2 separate regions of the Homo sapiens genome follow, and region 1 is linked to region 2. A link means that fine-mapping ties the variant in region 2 to the expression of a gene that starts in the linked region. Tissue or cell type: lung. Region 2 holds a variant in brackets; the other region holds the start of a gene. All regions are shown on one strand. Distances are between the middles of the regions.

What was found.
Region 1: TMEM260 starts here. The variant in region 2 is fine-mapped to the expression of TMEM260 in lung (TOPMed, PIP above 0.99).

The regions. Positions count from the first base shown.
Region 1 is chr14:56,574,623-56,585,658 of GRCh38, reverse strand. It overlaps TMEM260 (transmembrane protein 260), which reads right to left and starts at 5,861. Exons shown (of 16, transcript NM_017799.4): 1 at 5,585-5,861; 2 at 627-658. The coding sequence starts at 5,744. RefSeq lists a silencer at 5,574-5,793.
Region 2 is chr14:56,612,535-56,623,570 of GRCh38, reverse strand. TMEM260 (transmembrane protein 260) reads right to left here. Exons shown (of 16, transcript NM_017799.4): 8 at 7,544-7,627; 9 at 6,274-6,388; 10 at 4,808-4,977; 11 at 1,869-2,040. Among named protein-coding and RNA genes, the nearest start is that of TMEM260, 38 kb to the right of the region's middle. The variant C/T (reference allele first, on the strand shown) is at 6,392.

The DNA.
Region 1 (11,036 bases), 38 kb after region 2:
TTAGGCACCAATGACTAAATGTTTGAATAGTGGTTTTCTATTGTAATCCTCTTGAGGCAATACAAATAAATATTTTCTTTAGTGGATTTGGCAGCGTCTATCACATGGTGCGTCACCCAGAGAAAGGGTGACATATTTCATTGTCAGTTCTTAAGCAGTTTGTTCTCTGGGTTCACAGTACATTAGGGTCATTTAAAAGGCTATTGAAAAAAAGCAGGTTCTGAAATATCGTATTGGTTAGAAAGTTGAAAGACCACACTGCTATCGGATTACCACCATGCTGACAGTCGTAAGGTCTTGCCTGAAGGGATCATGCACCATAATAAAGTTTATTAAATAATAAACTTATTAAAACTGTTAACCCGATTTATTTTATTCCCCACAGCTTATACAAAATTTGGGGTGATAATAAGGCAGCTACTGTATATATAGTAAAGGCTTTGCTTTATAATTTAGTTTAATTGGATTTAAAACTTAAAGTAAATTGTCACGTACTGTACTTATAAGTTACTAAAAACGGGGGTTTGAAAATAAATTAATCTACTTTACTCCATGCTTAATTAAACTTTCTTAATTCCTAAAACTGTTAATGAGAGCATTGATTAAACAATAAAACTAATACTTACTCCAAGCTCATGTGCGGCTGTGATCAGTTCCCCTGTGAAAAAATAATGTAAAACCAATAATTACTATTAGAGAATGACACTCCTCCAAAGTTTTCAAAATCCAAATGCTTGCATTGGGGTTTTGCATTAATTTGACTGGATAAAACTGTAAATCTGTAGAGATTTAACAGCATGAAATAGTCTAAGAATATTTTCTCCTTTAGGTCTTATTGAACAAACTATCTTTGATAGTCTTTAAGAAGTGGTCAGTGGAAATATAGGTACATTCTGGTCTTTAAAAAATGCTTATTTTCCCTCTTGAAAGTTGTATCCACTTGCAAATATACAAATACTGTTGGAGCATTAGTGTAATATGCTTTATTATCCCTCAAGAAATTAGCACGAAAGTCTATAAAGATACAACCTTATAGTAAGGTAAAATGCGCAGACATCTGAGGTTTGGACACTCCATAAAATGTCCCATACTACCCTAAAACTGGCATTTGGGTATCTTCTCCACATTAATTGCACTGGATATCTTTAAATGATTTCCAAGTGTTTATTAACTCCACGTTATTTCGGTAAGGTTCACTGTAAGACATTTTTTCAAACCATTAAATAATATTCTTTACATAGTCCTTTATAGTTCCTCACCATTAGTGACTATTTCTAAAATTATGATGCAGTAATTTGATGCCTATTTGTTAACCTTTTACGTATTCAGAGCACAGGGACTATTTCTGACTCATCCCTGTACATTGTAGTACCGTACAATGTAAGGAATCAATATTGATGAATGACTCATGAAAGTTACTAGTACCTATTAGGAAATGTACTACTGTCCACTTCCTATCCTTTCATAGATAGCAATACTCTGCATTTAATTTCTGTCCCAGCTACAATTTAGACCTTTACTCTCTCTGGCCTGGACTATGGCAACAGACTTGACCAATCCTACTTCAATTCATCTTCATACTGAAATCACTTATAATCAACACCTGCCTTCCCCCATGCCCCTAAACACATACACACACACACACACACACACACACACACACACACAAAAGGCTGGATTGCATCCCTAGTCTAAAATTTCTCAATGGCTGCTCTCTGCTTACTGAACGAAGTTCAGATTCCTCAGCATGACGTTCAAGCTTTCTATGGTTTCAAGGTCCCTTTTCTAGGCTTATATCCATGAAACCTATGTTCCCTCCAGTCAAATCTTATTACCCACTGTTTCTCTGGAGTGGTCCTCTTTTGCACCTCTTCTCACTCATTTTCTCACCCTGGAATATTTTCCCTAGCATTCTCCCCCTAAATCCTTCAAGGCCAAGTTCAATTGCCACCTTCTTGGTAACCTTTCCTTAGACACCTGCTTCCCCAGCCTCCCCATCAGAATTAATCACTTCTTCCTCCTCCATAGAACCTGCTTGAGTCTATTTAGCACTTTAGATGGCCTTATATTCTGGTTGGTTTTCATTTCTCTCTCCCACTAAGTTTAAAAACATTATCCTATCCATTTCACGATCGTGCCAGGATACCACCACCTCTCCCCTCTGGCCACACACAAAGCATCAATTCAAGCCATACACACAGAGGTTAACAAAAATACACATCACATTGTCATCCTTGCTACTAAGACACCCCAGTCTTAGGTGACTGCATCATGGAAGCCTTATAAGGGCACCTGAAGACAGATTAAGTCAATTACTTAAGGACATTTGTTAAGAGATATTCAAGAGCACCTGAGAAACCAGCACATTTTATATCCTAAATGCTTCTTTTTAAATAGTTTATGGTCTCACAATGTCTCAAACAACTGTTCCCTTTGTTAACTACTGTAAAGGATATGATTTTATAGTTTACTCCATAATGGATTAGCTCTTAAGTCTTTAGCTCCAAACTATTTTCGATTTTTTTGTTCCTGTAATCTTTTTGTAACGAAGCCACCATAAATTCAAAATTTCAAAGGTCACTATTCATTCTCCTCCATTTAAAATGTATTCAGAATTACATTTAACATTAAGAAAAATAGGCTGTTTTTCTCTAACTTCTTTTTACCATGGAAAAGTCAGTGTGCTGTTATTATTTGCCAGACTTCTGCTGCTATAAAGATAAATCTGGAATGTGACAAACTTTCATCAATTCTTATCAAATGTTAAACTAAAATCGAAATAGAAAAGATGTCCCCATTCAACGTCTCTAAATGTAACCTTGATAAAGATCTAAAGGGAAATACTACTCTTAAATTGATTGTGATAAAGAGGAAGGGAATAGTAAAAAAACCTCGAGCTTCCCGAGTCTTGGCTTTCTCCCAACCCTTTACATGAAAGGTTCCTCAGTTGTGTCTACCTGCATCAGAATTAACCTGCTTTTTAAAAATGAAGATTCCTTGCCCACACCTCCAAATTCCATAATCTACTAAGACCCACTTGCACTGGGGGCTCAAGTTTCCCAGGTAATTCTGAAGTACGTTCCTGTCTGAGAACCACGGCTTTGTTGTCTGCAATACAAACTAATGGCAAGCCCAGAGTTGTCAGCAGATGCTTAACCTTTACAAAAACCAGCTCCCTTTATATCATACTTCTCAATATTAATTAGACTAGACTGTCACACATCACATCTGTTAAAGACAGTATCTTTGAAATAAACTCACGTACAAACTAATTTAGTGAAGGCCAGATTCCTACCCCCTCCCCGAAAAGCACCACAAGCACCCTGCCCATAAATGAACTGTGTGTGTCAAGTGGTACAAAAAATAATTTTGGCAAGACGACACAATGTGATGAATCTATGGAGTAAAATGTAAGACTTATCAGGAAGAAGAATACATGCTTTATACTGGTTTTGAGATGTGTTCTGTTTATTGATGAAAATATAATTCATAAACATTCAAGAATAGTGCATTCAACATGTAAACACAATTATCAAATATACGATAAAGCAAATTTTCCATATTGGCATATACTTGGAAAACAGTTTATCATTCCCAAAAATGAACATAAAAATATTAGAAGCAACCACTATTTAACATCAAACCAAACAAAATTAAAGCACCTAAAGTTTGGTAACTCAAGGTGAATACACAACTTTATTCTTTTAGGAAAAAATAAAATACAGTATTAATAAAGGCAAGGCAATAATCATGATTTTAAATAAATTTTAAACATCACTACATATGTGATGGTGGATTTAGAAAAGAATTTCATGAAATGTTTTGACGAAAAGTAGAGGTTAAGGGGGCATATTCTGAAGTCAATATACTTTTCTTTTCCTGATTTCTCTACTTTGTGTGACTTTGGGCATAGCTTAGCCTTAGTTTTCCCATTTATAAAAGGAAAATAATAATTGCACCTACTTTTAAGGGTAGCTGGGAGGGTTAAAACAACAACCCATATAAAGCACTTGGAACAGTGCCTGGCACATAGTAAGTGCCCAACAAACGTCAGTTATTATAAATCTCACTCCCATCCTTCACACTCAACCAACCATAAGTAGCTGTCAATCTTTTTATTTTTTTACAAGTAACAGAACTACCTAACCTCTGAATAATGCTCTCCAGCACCAAAACTCACAACTATAAAGTTACTTCCATTATGAAATACCAATCTTGGTAACACTGTACAGAAACTCCCTACTACACGAATGAAACACTATCCCTACTTGTGCAACAGGACCTGAAAGAAGAAAGGTAACAATTTGAAGATGTAACATCAAAGATCTTCAACGTGGTAGGCAGCCCTAAATATGATCCCCACTAATCCCCAAGTCCTGATATTCTCACCTGTGTAATCCTTCCCCCTTGAATATGGGTTGGGTTTACTGACGAAGTTCCAGGAATAAAATGCAGAAGTGGTATATCACTTACAGTATTAGGTTACAAAATGACAGAGCTGTCAGACAGAGAGGTGTCCTTCATCTTTTTCTTGACAGAAGTCAGTTAACTTATGGAGACCCACATAGCAAAGAACTAGATTGCGTTTCTCCCCAAATTGAGCCTTGAGAAGACCGCAGCCCCATCGCACACCATGACAGCAACCTTTTTCTGAGTACGAGCATCTAGCTTAAACGGCACCCAGACTCCTGATTTACAAAAACGGGAGACGATAAACGTTTGCTGTTTAAGCTGCTCAATTTGGGGATCACTAGTCATGCAGCAAAAACTGCTTCTTCAGTCCATAGGTTCACCACCTGAAATTACAGCACTATTCTGACAAAATTACTGGCCATGATATGGCATTATTGAATCCAAAAACAAAACATGGATCTTGTTTCTTGCATCAAATACAAAACAATTAGTGTGATTTAAGGGCCAATGAGTCATGCTTTTCTTTTTCATAGAAACAGCCGCACCTGGCTTCCACCTTTTTAAGAGTTCTCCTGCAAATATTCTGCATGGCTAGTTCCTTCTCAATATTCAGGTTTCAACTAAAACACCACCTCTTCAGAGGTCTTTCCTGAATAGTCATTCGGAAGGACCCACTACTTACCCCCACTCTCAATCATATTTCCCTCCTACTGTCTCCATAACTTATCACCAGTGAATATGCTGTTTATTCATTAACTTGTGTATTGTCTAACCGCACTGGAACACTAGCAATTATCTGTTCGCCACTACTGTTCTTTTGTTTGAAACATAATAAGGACACCGTGAATAATATCTGTGGACTAAAAAAGACTGAAAGTAAATACTCAGGACCAGGATAAAAGATCTGGGGAAGTGGAGAGGTCGATAAGCCCCACCAGGCGAAACCAACAATACGCCCCATCTCGAAAACCTGAGAACTAAAGAAACCACAACGACAGGAATGGAAACAGAAGTGGGCTCTGGAACACACAATAGTGCGCTGTGCACAGGGGGGTGGATGGAGGCCCAGAGCTGACCAGACCGAATGCCAAGAGCAGGGGCCAGACGCAGACCCTGCCCGTTCTGGGACCAGGGGAGAGGGACAGAAGGGGCAACCCTGCGAGTACTTTACCGGAGTCTCCCCCCGGTACCGAAGGGGGCAGGGTGAAGGTGAACACTGCGGCCACGGCGGCGAACACCGCCACGCCGCCGCGGATGCCCCCGGAGCGCCGCAGCCCCACTCGGACTGCCCGCCCCTGGGCCTGGCCCCTGCCGTCGCCATGGGGACTCATGGGCCAGTGGCGACCGAGGGAGAAGGACACGGCCAGCCCAAGAACCCGGTGCGACACGGAGCTCCCCAGCCGAGAGACGAGCGCAGCTTGTGCGGCGGCCACGGCGGCTTCCGGGTCGAGCCTCCGCGGGTTGGACCGCACCTTTCTCCGCCTGAGCGCGGGGAGGAGAAAATGCCAGGCCTCCCTTGAGCCAGGCCCTGCGAGTTTTCCCGCAGTGCACCACGCATTGGCGTTCACCTACTTATAATGTGATTTAAGGTTCCTAATCACCAGGAGAGCATTCCCTTTAAAAAGCAAGCCCGGCCACAGGCCTACCTTCTCCATGGCTATTCCCCCCTTTTATACTGACTTGGTTGGGTCTGACAGAGACCAAAGCAGCGTCGAAAACCGCGAGCGAGGAAGGGCTGCTCCTGCCCCCTACGGTGCGGGGTGGAACTGCACAAAAGGGCCACGATCAGCCAGGAGCCCCTACCTGTGCTAAAAAAAAAAAAAGGGTGGTGTATTTACCGTATGTGCAAAGTAAGCCAATAAATACATTAATCACAATTATGTATTTATTACGATTTACTACGTTACTATGACTAATTACAATAAGTCTGTGTGCTACTTATTAAATCACTGAGTAATTTTTAGAGAGATTAGAATATGCTAGTGCGTCTTTTTTTTTTTTTTTCATTCCATAGCATAATGAAAACTCTGTAGATGAGTCGGGAAATTTGAGTTCCTGTATTCATGCAGATAACTCAAACCATGATAAAGGTGTCTCCTAGTTTAATGAAGAGGAGTGTTTTGCTGGAGCTTTCAACACAGCAAAGTGGAAAATGAAATTGAATCACCATATTTTACAATGAGCTGTAACGCAAAAAAAAAGAATCGGAGCCGTTAATAAGGACAACTACATAACAGCGCAGTTAAGCTTTTTAAGCTTATGTTTTATTATTAAAGCAATTATCCTGGAGTGGGCGGGGAGGAGAGCAACCCGCATAAAATGTATCTCAAAGACACACTGAAAACCAGTGACAATCTCAAACGTGTTACGCGCAATTTGATAGAGACACAGTGACTAAACTATAGAGTAACATATACCTACCTTGACGGTCATGGGGCCAGCACACCTTAGTCTTTTCCAGGTACTTATACAATTTCCAGCCTTTTCCAGGTAATTTCTCAGCTGTACTGTGAGTTCCTGGAGGAGAGGGGCTGTGTGGTAGAGTGCTTCTAAAATGGATTCCCAGATAACCCTGCCTCCTCACTCACTTCCTGTATAAGCTGCTCGCCTTATGTGTGAGCTTAACCTAAGGATTGGCTTCTATCAATACAATAAGGCAAAAGTGATGGATGTCACTTTCAAGATTAGGTTATGAAAGACTAACTTTCATCTTGCTGGCACTCCCTCTTGTCCTCTCACTTGTTCTCTCTGATGAAGCCACCTACCATGGTGTAGGCTGCCCTGTGGAAAGGTCCACATGGGAAGAAACTGAGAGCCGCCTCTAGCCAACAGCTGGCAAGAAACTGAGACCTTCAGTCCAACAACCTTAGAGGAACTGAATCTAGGCAACACCATGTGAGGGAGCTAGGAAGTGGATCCTTCCCCCACATAAGCCTTGAGATAACTATAACTCCTGTCAAGACTTGGATTGCAGCCTGTGGATGACCCTGAAGCAGAGGACCTAACTAAGCCTCATCCAGACTGCTGTCCTATAGAAACCGCGAGATAATAAATGTTGTTTTAAGTTGATAAATGCAGGCTAATTTGTTAGTTATCAGCAATAGATAGTTAAGATAGGCTGTCTTCTATTTCTTTGCTGAAAGAACATGCCAATGAGTAACCTTGACTGGGTCAAGCATATACTTCTTTCCCTTTTTATGCATTTCACTTTTGCTCATGAGTTTTATTTAAAATTTTTTTATTTTGGAGGGGAATAATTCTTTGTCCATGTTTGGGAGGTAGAGATCAGTGCTGGAAGTACAAATTTAGGAGTTGCTCGTGTAAGGATGATATAAATGACTAACTTGATAAGGGGATAGTGTAGAGAGAACAAGGTTGAGGTCTAATGTCAGCCCATATTCTCATTTAGGGAATGGCTGGAGAAGGGGAGAGAACAGTGTAAGAGAATGAGGCATCACCAGAAGCTAAAGAAGAAAAGTCGATGAAGTACATGTGGTCAGGATGTTACAGAGAGGTAAAGGACAATGAAGAGAGGCACGTCTAGATTTTGTGAAGCTCAAGTGTATAAAACTTGGAGAATTATATGTAAGTAAACTGATATAAAACTGCAGATACAGAATTAGGCACAAGATATTGGAAGACACCTGGGCTAGAGAGGAACTGTGAGGCCTAAGCTTCATTAGCTTCATGGTTGTTTTCCTTTGAAGATTAAGAACTTCCAGTTCTCTGTTTATGTCTGACTCTACCTCTCAGTAAGCATCTGACTATTCCTTCCTCCCCGGAAGTATTTTCTTTTCTGGCCTTCATTGATAGCACACTCTTTGGTTTTCCTTTTATCAATGGCCTCCCTGCCCTGGCTCTGCTTCTGTCGGTCCCCCAAATGCTGAAGTATTCCTGGGCTGTTCTAGACTTTTCTCTCTTTCTGTCTTCTTTCCCGAGATGATCATATTGAAGCTTTAAAGGGCAACTATGGGGCAATATTTCTCAAAATTAGACCTCCTCTGCTTCTCTTTTTTAGCGACCGATTATTTTAAAAAACCCAACTGCCCCCGACCTCTCCATTTCTATGTCTAAATAGCCTGTCAAACCTGATGGACTTTGTCTAATTTCCACCATATTTAAAATGATGCCTGGCACAAAATTGGTGCTAAACAAATATTTATGTAATAAATGAATACATGAACAATCAGAGATCACTGGCATATCCGTTAGGGATTGCATTTAGCTACTAGTGACAGATCCTGCTACAGTGTCTTAAACATTAAAACAATCATTCTCTTATATAAAAGAAGTCAGAAGTCTATAGGAAGTCAGTCTACCACTGGCTTGGCAACTCCCTGATTCCACTAGGGACACAGCTGAAGTCCTCATATCTTTCTGCACCATCCCACTCAGCTCACATTCTCAAGGTCATCTACTGATCCAAGGTGGCTGCTAATGCTCCAGACATTACATCTGTTCTTGAGGAAGAAAAAGAAAGGATGGGAAGAGAAAGGCCTGCTCCAGCTTTTTTAAAAAAGCACTATTTTTTTAAATGCTATTCCACAATTTTGCTATATCTAATTGGCCAAAATTGAATAACAGGTCACTCCTAGGGGCAAAGGATGCTGCGAAATAGACTTTTCAGCTGGACAGTTTGCCTAGAATTCTATTACAAAGGAAGAAGGGGAGAATGGATACTGAGGGGCAACTAGCAGGCTCTGCATGGTTGGATTTGGTGACCTGGAGGTATTTGAACCTTGAAAGTTCAAGAGGTCAGCTTCAGTAGAGTAGTATCTACAGAAACAAGGTACTAGTGGGCTAAGAAGTGAGCAAATGGAAGACATGAAAATAAAATACATTTGCAAAAAGTTTGGCAGTGAAGGGAAAGAGAGAAATAGCATGAAAATTCACAGGGATCGAAGTGTCAAATGAAGATTTTTGAATGTCTTGTTTTGTTTGTAACTCAAGGGAGTATTTGGAGAGACATAGTGATGAAGTAAAGATGTACAGGTTATTGGAGAGGATGGGACTGAGGAGGACAGAAGAGAAGGGTTGAAGATAGAAAATGTTAGAGATAAAGAGAGAGACCTCATGATGTCTCTCTTTACACATGATGTGTAAACATGTGATCGTTGGACTTGATCCTGAGACAGACCAATAAGACATATAACGAGTATTGATTTATTGTTTGTGCTCTACATCATTCTATGATGGCTTAGAGTTAGCCACTATAATACAAACCATAAAGCAGAAAAATATGTAAATAATTTGGGATTCATCCAGAGAAACAGAACTAGTAGGAGATATGTATGATACAATTTATTGCAAGGAATTGTATAATGTAATTTTGAGGGCTGGCTAAGTAACTCTGAAGCCCGTAGCACATGCCATCAGGAAGGGAAGACTGGAACTCCTGGGCATGGCAGAAAGCTGTTGTCCACAGCTGGAAGTTTTTCTTCATCAGGGGACCCATATCCCTGCTCTTAAGGCCTTTCCACTGATTGAATCAGGCCTACCAGATTAACTATGATAATCTCACGGTTTTGAAGACAAATGAGGCTGGGCATGGTGGCTCATGGCTGTAAACTCAGCACTTTGGGAGGCTAAGGTGGGAGAATCACTTGAGGCCAGGAGTTCGAGACCAGCCTGGCCAACATGGCAAAACCCCATCAATACTAAAAATACAAAAAAAAAAAAAAAAAAAAAAAAAGCCAGGTGTGGTGGTGTTTACCTGTAATTCCCGCTACCCAAAAGGCTGAGGCACGAGAATCGCTTGAAACTGGGAGGCAGAGGCTGCAGTAAGCCAAGATCATGCCACTGCACTCCAGCCTGGGTGACAGAGCAAGACTCTGCTTGGAGAAAAAAAAAAAGTCAACTAATTATGAACTTTAGTCATATCTACAAAATACCATCACAGCAACACCAAGATTCGTGTTTGATTGAAAAACTGAGGAATGTAGCCAAGCCAAGTTGACACATTCGAAGAACATCACAGAGGCCAGGGAACACTCAATTAGATATAGAACATCAGATTGACGGAAAGTAAATACATAGATCCATGGCCCTATGGTACCCTAAATTTGGCTCTGGGAGTCTTCCTGGGATTTATGGCCAGCATCTAGCTTCTGTTGAAACCAAGGAGATGGCTCCTCATTATTGCTGAGCAGAGGTGGACATTCCACCTACCTGCCGGGCCTCTACTGCTGCCTCCCTGCTGCAAGGTAAAGGAGTCCTCGTCACTATTCCACTTGTGGTTTCCACTAGCACCACATGGTTATGGGGGTATGGAGATGGCCTCCTTTTCCTTGGACAGTGGTGAAAGTCCTGACTCTCACTAGGCTGCCTCTGATACTACCCCAGAAGGGAGGGAAAGGGGGACCTCATTCTTTTTGGGCAGGGGTGGAAGTCAAAGATCCCCACGTGGTCTCCACTGCCACCATGGAGAAGAGGGGTCTCATTACCACCCAACCAGAATGAAAGTTCTGGCTTCTTCCTTTGCCTTCTTTGACATGACCCTGGTGGCATGTGGAGGCACCTGGAGAGGGTAGAAGTCTAGGCTGCCCACTCAGCCTTCCTCATGGTTTATTCTTTGGTTTTGGCTACAGTAGAGTGATTGTTTTCTAAATGTATCTGTCTTGCCC
Region 2 (11,036 bases):
ATCTTCATTTTGATCAGGTAGCTCAGGCTGCAATGTTCTCAGTCTAGTCATTCTCCTTTGCTAATAAGCAGTTTAGGTGTGAGTATATGACTCAGTATTGGTCAGTGGGGCCTGAGTGGAGGTCTGCTGGGGGGCTTCTGGGGCACATGTTATTTCCAATAAATAGAGAGAGGGAGATACCCCAGAAGAAGCACTGTGCTTTGTTTTAGGTTGTGATGTTTGGAACTGGGCATGCATCCTGTGACTGGGAGGGAAAAGTCAAGAGAATGGCAGAAAAACTGCCTCAGAAACTGACGTCCCTGAACTGCTCATATTATCAATCCTAACATCACCTATCTCCAGACTGCGTCTCATGTGAGGCTAAAAACTCAGTCATTTAAGTCAGGTATTCTGTTTCTTGCATTCAAATGCACCCTAACTTACATAATGATGACTTACATTTCATAAATAAGGGAACAGAAGCTCTGAGAGGAAAAATCATTAGCCCCATGTCACATATCCAGGAAGTGACAGAATGAGGACTTGAGTTTAGGTCTAATTCACTTTCTAATCCATGCTTCTCAACTACAGGAGCTGACATTCTAAACAGTGTTTAAAATCATAGTGTGGAACCATGTTATTAACAAATAACATAGCTTTTGTCAGAATCTAGACTGAAGTTCAAATTAATCAATCGGCATCCATGATATAAATGCAACTGCTTATAAAAATGTAAAATTGTATATTTACAAATCTGTTTATAAAGTTTTCTCCAAAAATTATAATTATTCATTAATTCAACAAAGTGCATTAAGTACTATGCCTAATAATTTGTTCAATTGAATTCATCATATTATTCTTTTAAGATTAAGAATTTCTCTTTTCCTAATGACTGCTCTAAAAACACCAGAGACAGGTTTCTTCCCTTTTATGTATCTATGGCTTAAATAATAAATCTTAGTTTAAATAGTTCTTCAATGAAAAAAAAAGTTTTCATAGCCCTCAAAATTTTCACAAGTCCTCTCTTAATGTATTTTTGTCACAGCATTAAGAAAGTTTATATAAAAATTCTATAGCATAATTATGGTTAATAATTTCTATTTTGAGTGAAATGTTTACTTACCTACAGTATGATTTATTTCATATTCAATATAATTTATTTTAATCCCTGGACCAATGGGCAAGGTAAATTTGAATGGTTGAGTTAGCTGAATATAAAATAACAATTTTTTTTTTTTTTTTTTTTTTTGAGACGGAGTCTCGCCCTGTTGCCCAGGCTGGAGTGCAGTGACACGATCTCGGCTCACTGCAAACTCTGTCTCCCAGGTTCACACCATTCTCCTGCCTCAGCCTCCCGAGTAGCTGGGACTACAGGCGCGTGCCACCACACCCGGCTAATTTTTTGTATTTTTAGTAGAGACGGGGTTTCACCATGTTAGCCAGGATGGTCTCGATCTCCTGACCTCGTGATCCGCCAGCCTCAGCCTCCCAAAGTGCTGGGATTACAGGCGTGAGCCACTGCGCCCGGCCTGAATGTAAAATAACAATTTAAAAATAGATTTACCATACAACAAACACTTTTATGGTTTGTCACATGAACTAGAGACCTAAAACATTATGAATCTAACATGAAACACATTAATTCTTAAAACGTTCAGTTTAAATGTTTTTAAATGAGAAAGAAGCAACTAGTGTGACTTACACTATTAGTTAAAATAAAAAAAAGTATGCCCATATATATTCTACCTAACATGTAGAATGTCATATATATTCTACCTAACAGTGATCATGAAAACTGTACCCGTCCACCATTTTAAAAAAGATGTTTTTTCCAAAACATATGTTTTTAAATCATCGCTATATTCTAAGTATATTTTTCATATACTTACTTCCTGATCCACTAATGAAATGTCAGGCCTCAACCCCTCACAGTAATGCATGTAACGGAGAGAATTTCCTGGCAAATCTCCTCTGAGTAAGATAATTGCATCATGAGGCATAGAGGTGAGAAGGTTCTTTGCGAACTTATCAATCACATAGTTGGTCCTTTGGTCACAAACACTAAATAAAAGGATCCAAAAAAATTAAAATAGCAACACTTTGCTACAGTTTTAATAAGACTAGGCTTATTTTCTATGCCATTCTTTTCCCATCATACAATCAACATTTAGTGTTTCAATACATTCTAAAATAATATGTATATTTGAAGAGAGAATACTATCACCTGATAAGCAGCAGCTAATTGTGCAATTGAAAAAAAATCAGTCTACTGCTTACTTCTGGAGTTTATAATCATTTCCAGAAAAAGGGAATCAGTACACAAGAATAGGTCCTTTTTTCCCCCTAAGTGCAATCCAATTTTATTTTTAGAAAGTAAGATTTCTGATTCCACTTGGAGTTTAAGGCAATTTTATGTTCATTCCATTTACTCAAAGGAACTTTCAGAAATGCAAAAGGAAATCTGCCCATTTCTGACTTGAATTTGTATGGCATTTGTATGATTTTCTTGCATGCAGAGGTTGATCCTTTCCACTTCTCCCCTGAATCACAGGCCTCCTGTGTCCCTCTCTGCCTTTGGAGATCAAGAAATTGCTAGGGAATGAGACCAATGAGAAGCAAGGGGAGGACGAGTTTCCTGAGTTGTTTACTTCTCTCCAGGCATTATTTGCTATTGCCAATAACTTCATTCTTTTCAAGAATGAAGTTAACTTTCTAACTTCAAAGAAAAACTGGCATGAATTCTGACAGCATTCTATGAAAAAAGAAAAAGATGACAAAACAGTAATTAGTATCAAAAAATGAGACAAGCAATGTCCTTTCTGTTATTACCAAGTCCATTACATTTGATGGAGCTGAGAATATCTGGGGTATCACAAAACAAATGAACACCTCTAGGAACAGAATATTATCCCTGCCTTTGTAATTGATGTAAAAATTACTGTTTCCTACCTGATTCCCTATGTTGCAGAGTGATGAGGCACATTTTGCCACCTAGCAAAAGTGCTATGTATTCCATTCCCCTGGGACAAATAAAAAAAATCAAAACAAGATAAAAACACCTAGCCTGTGCAAATATGTCTGGTGTCGAACCTGGACTGCCCTAATGGCCTGAGCCAGGAGATGACTGGGATAAGAAAAGGTTGGGAAACACACTGTGGGCTTGGTGCACCTTCTTGAGCTAGCGATGATGTTGTGTCCAGGACACGCAGCCCCTTCTCTCAAGGCCTCCTGGTGGCCTTCCTAACACCAGCTCTACCCCAGTATTATAAAGAACAATGTTGTGGGTTTTTTTAACTTTTATTTTATGTTCAGGGTACACGTGTGGGTTTGTTGTTATAAAGGTAAATTCACGTCACAGGGTTTGTTGCACAGATTATTTCGTCACCCAGGTATTAAGCCTGGCACACAATAGTTATTTTTTTCTGATCCTCTCCCTCCTCCCAGCCTCCACTCTCAAGTAGGCCCCAGTGTCTGTTGTTCTCCCTCACTGTATCCATGAGTTCTCATCGTTTAGCTCCCACTTATAAGTGAGAAGATGCAGTATTAGGTTTTCTGTTCCTCTGTTAATTTGCTAAGAATAATGGCCACCAGTTCCATCCATGTTCCTAAAAAGGACATGATCTCATTCTTTTTATGGCTGCCTAGTGTTCCATGGTGTATATGGACCACATTTTCTTTTTCCAATCTGCCACTGATGGGCATTTAGGTTGATTCCATGTCTTTGTTATTGTGAATAGCGCTGTAATAAACATTCGCATGCATGTGTCTTTATGTTAGAATGATTTATATTCCTTTAGGTATATACCCAGTAATAAGATTGCAGGGTTGAATGGTAAGAACATTGGTTTTTAAAGTTAAGTTAAAAGAGAAAATGTAATCCTTTAAAATAATACCAGTCCAATCTCACTATAGCAAAATTCCAAGGGACTCTCTTCCATTTCCATAATGTGTACTTGATATTGCTGGAAATAAACGAACTATAGTCTAAGACTTAGACGTCTTTTATGTCAGACTGAGATTTTTATTGTAATGGTTATTAAACAGATTTTTTGAAAAATACATGTAATACTAATAATATATGAGTTAAGAAACTTTAGAACTTAATTTAAAAATAATTAAGGCTGGTATAGTGGTTCACACCTGTTAATTCCAGCACTTTGGGAGGCTGAAGAGGGAGGCTTGCTTGAGACCAGGAGTTCAGGACCAGCCTAGGCAACATAGTGAGACCTTGTCTCTACAAAAAAAAAAGAAAAAAGGCATGCTAATGGTGGCATGTGTCCATAGTCCTAGCTACTGAGGAGGCTGAGGCAGAGGACTGCTTGAGCCCAGAATTTCACGGCTGTAGTAAGCTACGATCATGCCACTGTACTCCAGCCTAGGGGACAGAATAAGACCTTGTCTCAAAAAAATTAGTATTTACTACTACAGAGTAAACTGGACATAAAGGGAAGCATAAAGTGAATTATTTTAGGGTATACAAAAAACTCTAAATCATTTTACTCTCCATCTAAGTGGTATTTTAGGTCATGGAATTTTACCTATACTAGGGATTCTAAAAGTATCTCTTGGGTTCTTAAGAGAAAAAGATACAAATTGTCTACACGCACCACCTAAACCCTTGTTTGCAATGGCCTGAAACCATTCATCGCCCATGCTTTAACTTTTAGGTTTAACGACCCTAAAAGTTAAAGAACTACTGCATTCAACCAAGCTGTCTCACTTTGAGTCTTGAAAACCAGAAGTTAACAATGAAATAAAGTGTTAGAATCTAAATATTCAGGTATCTCTGGCTTGACAGCTACTTTTCATAAAAATAACCATGTATTACCTGTAATTAGAATATATTTGGTAAACTACAAAAAGAGTTGCAGAAAGCCATTCCAGACACTGAAGCCCATTGCTATTCAGCACTCGGTTAGTCTCAGACACAACTGCAGCCAAACCAATGCCAGCGAGGACGGCCACTACTGCATTGCTCTGCATCCAGAATCGTTCCACCTGTGAAAGAGACATGCAACCAGTGGGTCCAGTTGACTATTTAATGCTATCAATCAGCTCCTCATATATTTTTTAAATATGCTGCATGCACCTAGTTGTGTGTGCCTGTTGTCATTCAGGTTTTGTTAACTGATTTCCCCAATCCAAGCCCAGGTCATTTTATTTTTCTATTTTCAAACATTCTTCCTTCCCAGTTTGACAGGTGCATCTCCCTTTTCAGATCCACACATTCATTTCAATACTGTGGCCTTAGTCTTGAACTCCAGTAATATACAGGCTGAAGGAGTTAGAGAAATGCTTTTGCTTTACTCCTGATGTTTCCTTCCACATGGAGAAGCTCCACTGTCCTGGCCTGTCTCTGACCCCTCACGTATTTCCTCCTATAGGATGTAGGGACTGATCTGACTGGGGAGTTTGGGAGCTGGGACTGGGCCTGCAGCGCCCTCCCTTTTCATCTCACTTTCTCCTGGAAGTGAGCTACCCACAGGAAGCACTTGTCCAGGGCTAGAGTCTATCTCTGTGGCACCAGTGGGGTGGGGGAGACAGGGAAGAGGCCTGACCTGCACAGCACTGCCTATGACTAGTGGGTAAATCTGTCTATTCTGGGATGCTGGAAGAGGAAGCCCCCTTGGCTACAGATATAAGCTGCATTTTCCAATCTCAGTATTATCAGTAATAAAAGTGATTCTCCCACCCGTTGTACTGTATTACCTTGTTTCTCAATTGATTCAGAACTCAGGTGATCAAGTAGGGTATTATTTATTAGGCTTCCTGAACACACACATACGCAGACTTTGTTTCAGCTGTCAAAAAAGTGCTATTGACATTTACAGAGAATCTATTGTAAGTAGAAGAAATACTCTAATCTCAGAGACTGCTGCCAAAGAAAACAGAAATACGGTTGCTCTTTTGCCTAGGCCTGGGACTGGGGAGGTAAGAAATAAGGAAATATGTTGTTAAGTGCCCTCAATTACAATTCATATTTCTTTTGCTGTTAAAAAAATTCCAGGAGAAATGCAGTTGTACCTATATTTGCAAGCACACACACATACAATGACTTAAATCTACTTTACATTTACTTTTCTATTTAACAACTGTGTTAAACACTGCATTCTTTTTATCCTAAAAAGAGGCCTTAGCTGTATTGACTCAATAATTCAACTTTGATTTATAAAAATGTATATAAAATTTTAACTATTCCTCAAGTAATTTGCCCTTCTACAAGATTTATGAAATGCAAATTTGCACATTCTTCACAAACTTTCTGGTCAAAGGATATATCTAAGTAAAACTTACCACACCCATGAAAAGTGGTTTTGAAATATCTAAATTTGCTCTCCAAGCAAAGAACAATGAATAAATGCAAAACATTCCAGTAAAAAGCCATACTAATGATGGATTCTGTCTGTCCCTA[C/T]AAAAAATAATAAAAATATGTCTAAAATATTTAGATACATGAATGTCAAATATAATATCACAGGACTTTAAACTATTAGATCTATAAAAACTTTCCATTTTTAACTAGGAGCAAAGAGAGATTTCGGTTTTTAAAATCTGAGTTGAAACAAATAACCAAAATATAATAATAAATTTGAACTACAACTTGGGACTACGCAGTAAAGGATATAAAGCTAACATTCACAGAAGAAATGCAAACTACTGATTTTGTTAAATTTCAGAAGTGATCAAATACAGGCAAAATAGAAACATTTTCATGCTTGAAATAATAAAGATTTAAGAACGATAACTCTCAATGTTGGTGTGCAGTGGTATGACAATATATGTTAGTATAATCCTTCAGAAAATTTAATTTGATAATATCTATATCGGAAGCCTTAAAAATATTAATAATCATTGACTCAGTTATTTATCATGCAGGCATAAATCTTTAAGCAATAACCAGAAATGTAAATAAAGATTAATCCATAAAAATGCTTTGTTATTACTTATAATAGTGGAAAAAGTGGAAGCAATCTAAAGACCTCTCAATAGAAGAACAGTTAAATTAATTCTCCTGTGGTCATAGAATGTTCTATTATATAGACATTTAAATGATTTTAAGTATTTTTATAGTATGAGAAAATGTTCACAATGTTTGTGTCAAGTAAACAAAACTATAGATAAATGTACAAATATACATTTACATACAAATGCATTCAACAGACTAGATCATAAATGAATAAATTAATGGAGATTTACAGTGCTACATTTTTCAGGGTTTCTTTTGTCATCGGATCACTTTTATCATCAGAGGAATTTAAATTATTGCTTCTTTTTAAAATCAGCAATAATAATCGGTTATAGCAGAGTTAAGGGATCAAACCTGAAGTTTAGGACATCAAATGACTGTCTACTTAGATGTAATATAATGCTCAATTTCTTGAAATCATTGATTTATTTAGAATCAGAATAGAAGAAAGCAATACACGTTTATCTTAATAGACAGCTAGGAGAGTCATTTATTTGGAGTATAAAATAATACTGGCAATGTCCTACAGCGACATACTGAAAACATTAATTCAATTCATGAACATAGAAAAATAACAGAAAAAGGAATTGTATTACTTACTTTGTTGCTAAACATATATTTGCACAAACTGCAAGGGCTTGGATGTTGAATGAGAGTTCGGTCCTCATATTTGTTACTTGAGAACTGCAAAAAACAATCTAACTTATTGTTGGCAGGAAACAAATTTGATTGATTCCAAATAAAATAGTCCTTGTAAGATACCATTGATTATATACTGAACAATCACAAGGGCTGGGGTCAGATTTTAAAATTTTGTCTTTTAAAGTTGGAAGAAAAAGTGCAATAGAAAGACTTAAATAGTTCCAAGACGTTTTCCAATGGTAACATTTGGTTATCAACTTATATAATTTGGAATAGGATCAGAACAAATAATTCTTCTGTATTTTTTATATTGGTATACTGTATAGAATATCCCCGACTGGTTTGGTAGGAAGCTGTTTGAAATGAGTTTTTGAACTTTTTTCTCTTGGCAGTGTAGACATGGCCTCCAGTGATTTAGCAAATGATAACAAAATTAATTCAAATAGATTTCTGGAGATCTAATATGAAGAAAATAAAGGCCATGAGAGATAATTCCCAGCCATTCTTTTGTGGGTTATTTTTTTCCTTAATTGGTTTCCTTGTTTTCTATATTATTTGTTTTGGTTCAAAAAACATTTAAGCAATCTCAGAGAAATGTATTATGTTTTTTTCCTACAAATAAACTAAATTCTTCCATTAACTCATATGCATTTTCAGGTGTTAAAATTTGAGTTCTAAAATAGCTTCTGCTCTAGCTGTCTCCAATTGTTAAAAAAGAAATGACTCTATACATCATCTCAAAGAACTTTCTTCTCCCTACCGGCAATTTTACTGGAGAAAATGTGATACCATAATTATAGAAACCATACAATGTGTATTTTACTAATGAAGACTCATCTACTATGAGAAGATATCCTTACTCATTTTCAAATACACTTGAAAAAATTGATTCCAGCATGAGGCCCATTTCAAACCATTCTTCAAAAGGAATGAAGTCAGTCTCAAAATTATTCTTGGAGATCTATTGCTTAAGTGTAAGCGCTAAAAGATGGTCACTGCCTAAGGTTAGATTCAATAATTTCCTTGTACAGGATTGCAATTTAGAGATATGCATGGGGAAAAAATTTAATTTGCTTGACTGGAAAAGGGTAGATGATTAGCTTCTATCATTTTGAAGGATTTTCTCATAAGTTAATTATGAGTTGCCTTTTTCAATGTTCCTGCCCACCTGAAACTATTAAAGACTAGACATTCTCATTCAGGGAGTGCTAAGATTATGCCTTCATTCTACATGATGACTTGGTCCACACAGAACACAGAAGTGTGGGTGTGAGTGGTCATCACTTTTGTCAAGTCTTTTTTCTGGGTATACAGCCTGCTATTATTTTAATGTAAAGGAGGCCTTTAAGGGTCCCAATAGATGACTTTTATGTGCAACTAATAAAAGTTAGACATATGGTCTAGGATTACTCTCAAGAGTTCTTTGGAGTTCATGTAGGGTTTGCTAAGACAAAATATACCAGTTATCCTTAATGCTGTAACAATCTCTGGAAGGTAGATAGAAAAGAGCAGGCAGTGAGTCCTTCTGCATGGAGCAAAGCAGAATAAAATGAAAGCTCAGAGACATTGATATGACATTTGACTGTCTTTATCTTTATTTTTTTATTTTTTGAGACAGAGTCTCACTCTGTTGCCTAGGCTGGAGTGGCATGAAGGTGGCTCACTGCAGCCTCGACCTCCTGGGCTCAAGCGATCCTCTCACCTCAGCCTCCTGAGTAGCTGCAACTACAGGTGCATGCCACCATGCCTTTTTTTTTTTTTTTTTTAATGTTTTGTAGGCCGGTTGTGTTAGCTCACTCTGGTAATCCCAGCACTTTGGGAGGCCGAGGCAGGTGGATCACCTGAGGTCAAGAGTTTGAGACCAGCCTGGCCAACATGGTGAGACCCTGTCTCTACTAAAAATACAAAAATCAGCTGGGCGTGGTAGCACACACCTGTAATCCCAGCTACTCAGGAGGCTGAGGTGGAAGGATCACTTGAACCCGGGAGGCGGAGGCGGAGGTTGCAGTGAGCAGAGATCTCACCACTGCACTCCAGCCTGGGTGACAGGGCAAGACGCCATCTCAAAAAAAAAATTTTTTTTTTTTTTTGCAGAGACGGGTCTCACTATGTTGCCCAGGCTGGTCTCAAACTCCTGGGCTCAAGCGATCCTCCCACTTTGGCTTCCCAAAGTGCTGGGATTACAGGCATTAGCCACCGCACTCAGTGCCATTTTTATTTTTGAAAAGAAAACTGAGCTTCTTGTTACATTCCCCCAGCGAAAATGAGAAAGCCACAAAAGTCTCACACATAAAAAGAAATATTTACAATCAATGGTGAGAACCATCAAAAGGTTACGTGAAAGTAACTGATGGCAAGGAGGTATTTCCAAGATATAATGTAAAGTGAAAAACAGCAGGCTAATAAAACAGTATGTTTACTATGATCCTACTTTTAAAAAGAAATAAAAATCTTAAAAATATTAGAAAAATATAGTCATTAACAGATTAATAACAGTGGTTATCTCTGCATGTTGGATTTATAGGTAGTTTTAATTTTCTTATTTTTGCTTACCTGTATTTTCTAAGTTTTCTATAAAGCTTATGTACCTTTTTTGAAGTAGAAAAAAGAAGTTGTTTAAAAAGAAAGCAAGGAAGGATGGCTGGAAGAAAGCAAGCTATTAAGTAAATTACACCGAAACTGTGAGAACTCATAAACTGCCTCACATATAAAGTTGAAATATTCTCCTCATAGTTTTTTTTCAAACAGCCCCAAGAGTTCCAAATTAGTAATTAGTTAGGACATCACTTTAGTGTTGTAGAAACCTATTTTCTTCCAAAATTTTGTATCAAGTTGGTATGGATATCTTTCCACTTGTCTTAATCTGTAGGTTTTAAAGCAAATATTAACCCAGTTTTCAAAGAACACTATTAAATAATATACATGAAAATATATTTGCTTAAGCCAGCTCTAATAAGGTTGGATGTTAAAAATATGTAAGCCAAAGATAGAGCTTACGGCAAGGATAGCCTAAAGAAGTCATAGGAGACATTACATAAATTAAACTCTGAAATACTAAAATCCAAAATAACAAGAAAATAGTTGTTCAATTGAAGGTTGAAACATTTTAGTTCTATAAATGCTCTATATAGTATTCTAATATTCACCGTTGTGTTTATTGCTCATTTTAAGCTCTATCTTAGTGAAGGAGGTGCTAAAAATATTTGACAGTACAGTCGGCCCTCTGTATCCATGGGTTCTGCCTCCATGGATTCAATTAACCTTAAATCAAAAAAAAAAAAAAAAAGTTGGGGAAAAAACTGTCTGTACAAACATATACAGATGTTTTTTCTTGTCATAATTCCCTAGACAATACAGCATAACAACTATTTACATAGCATTTACATTATACTAGGTATAAATTATCTAGAGATGATTAAAAGTATACAAGAGGATGTAAATAGGTTATATA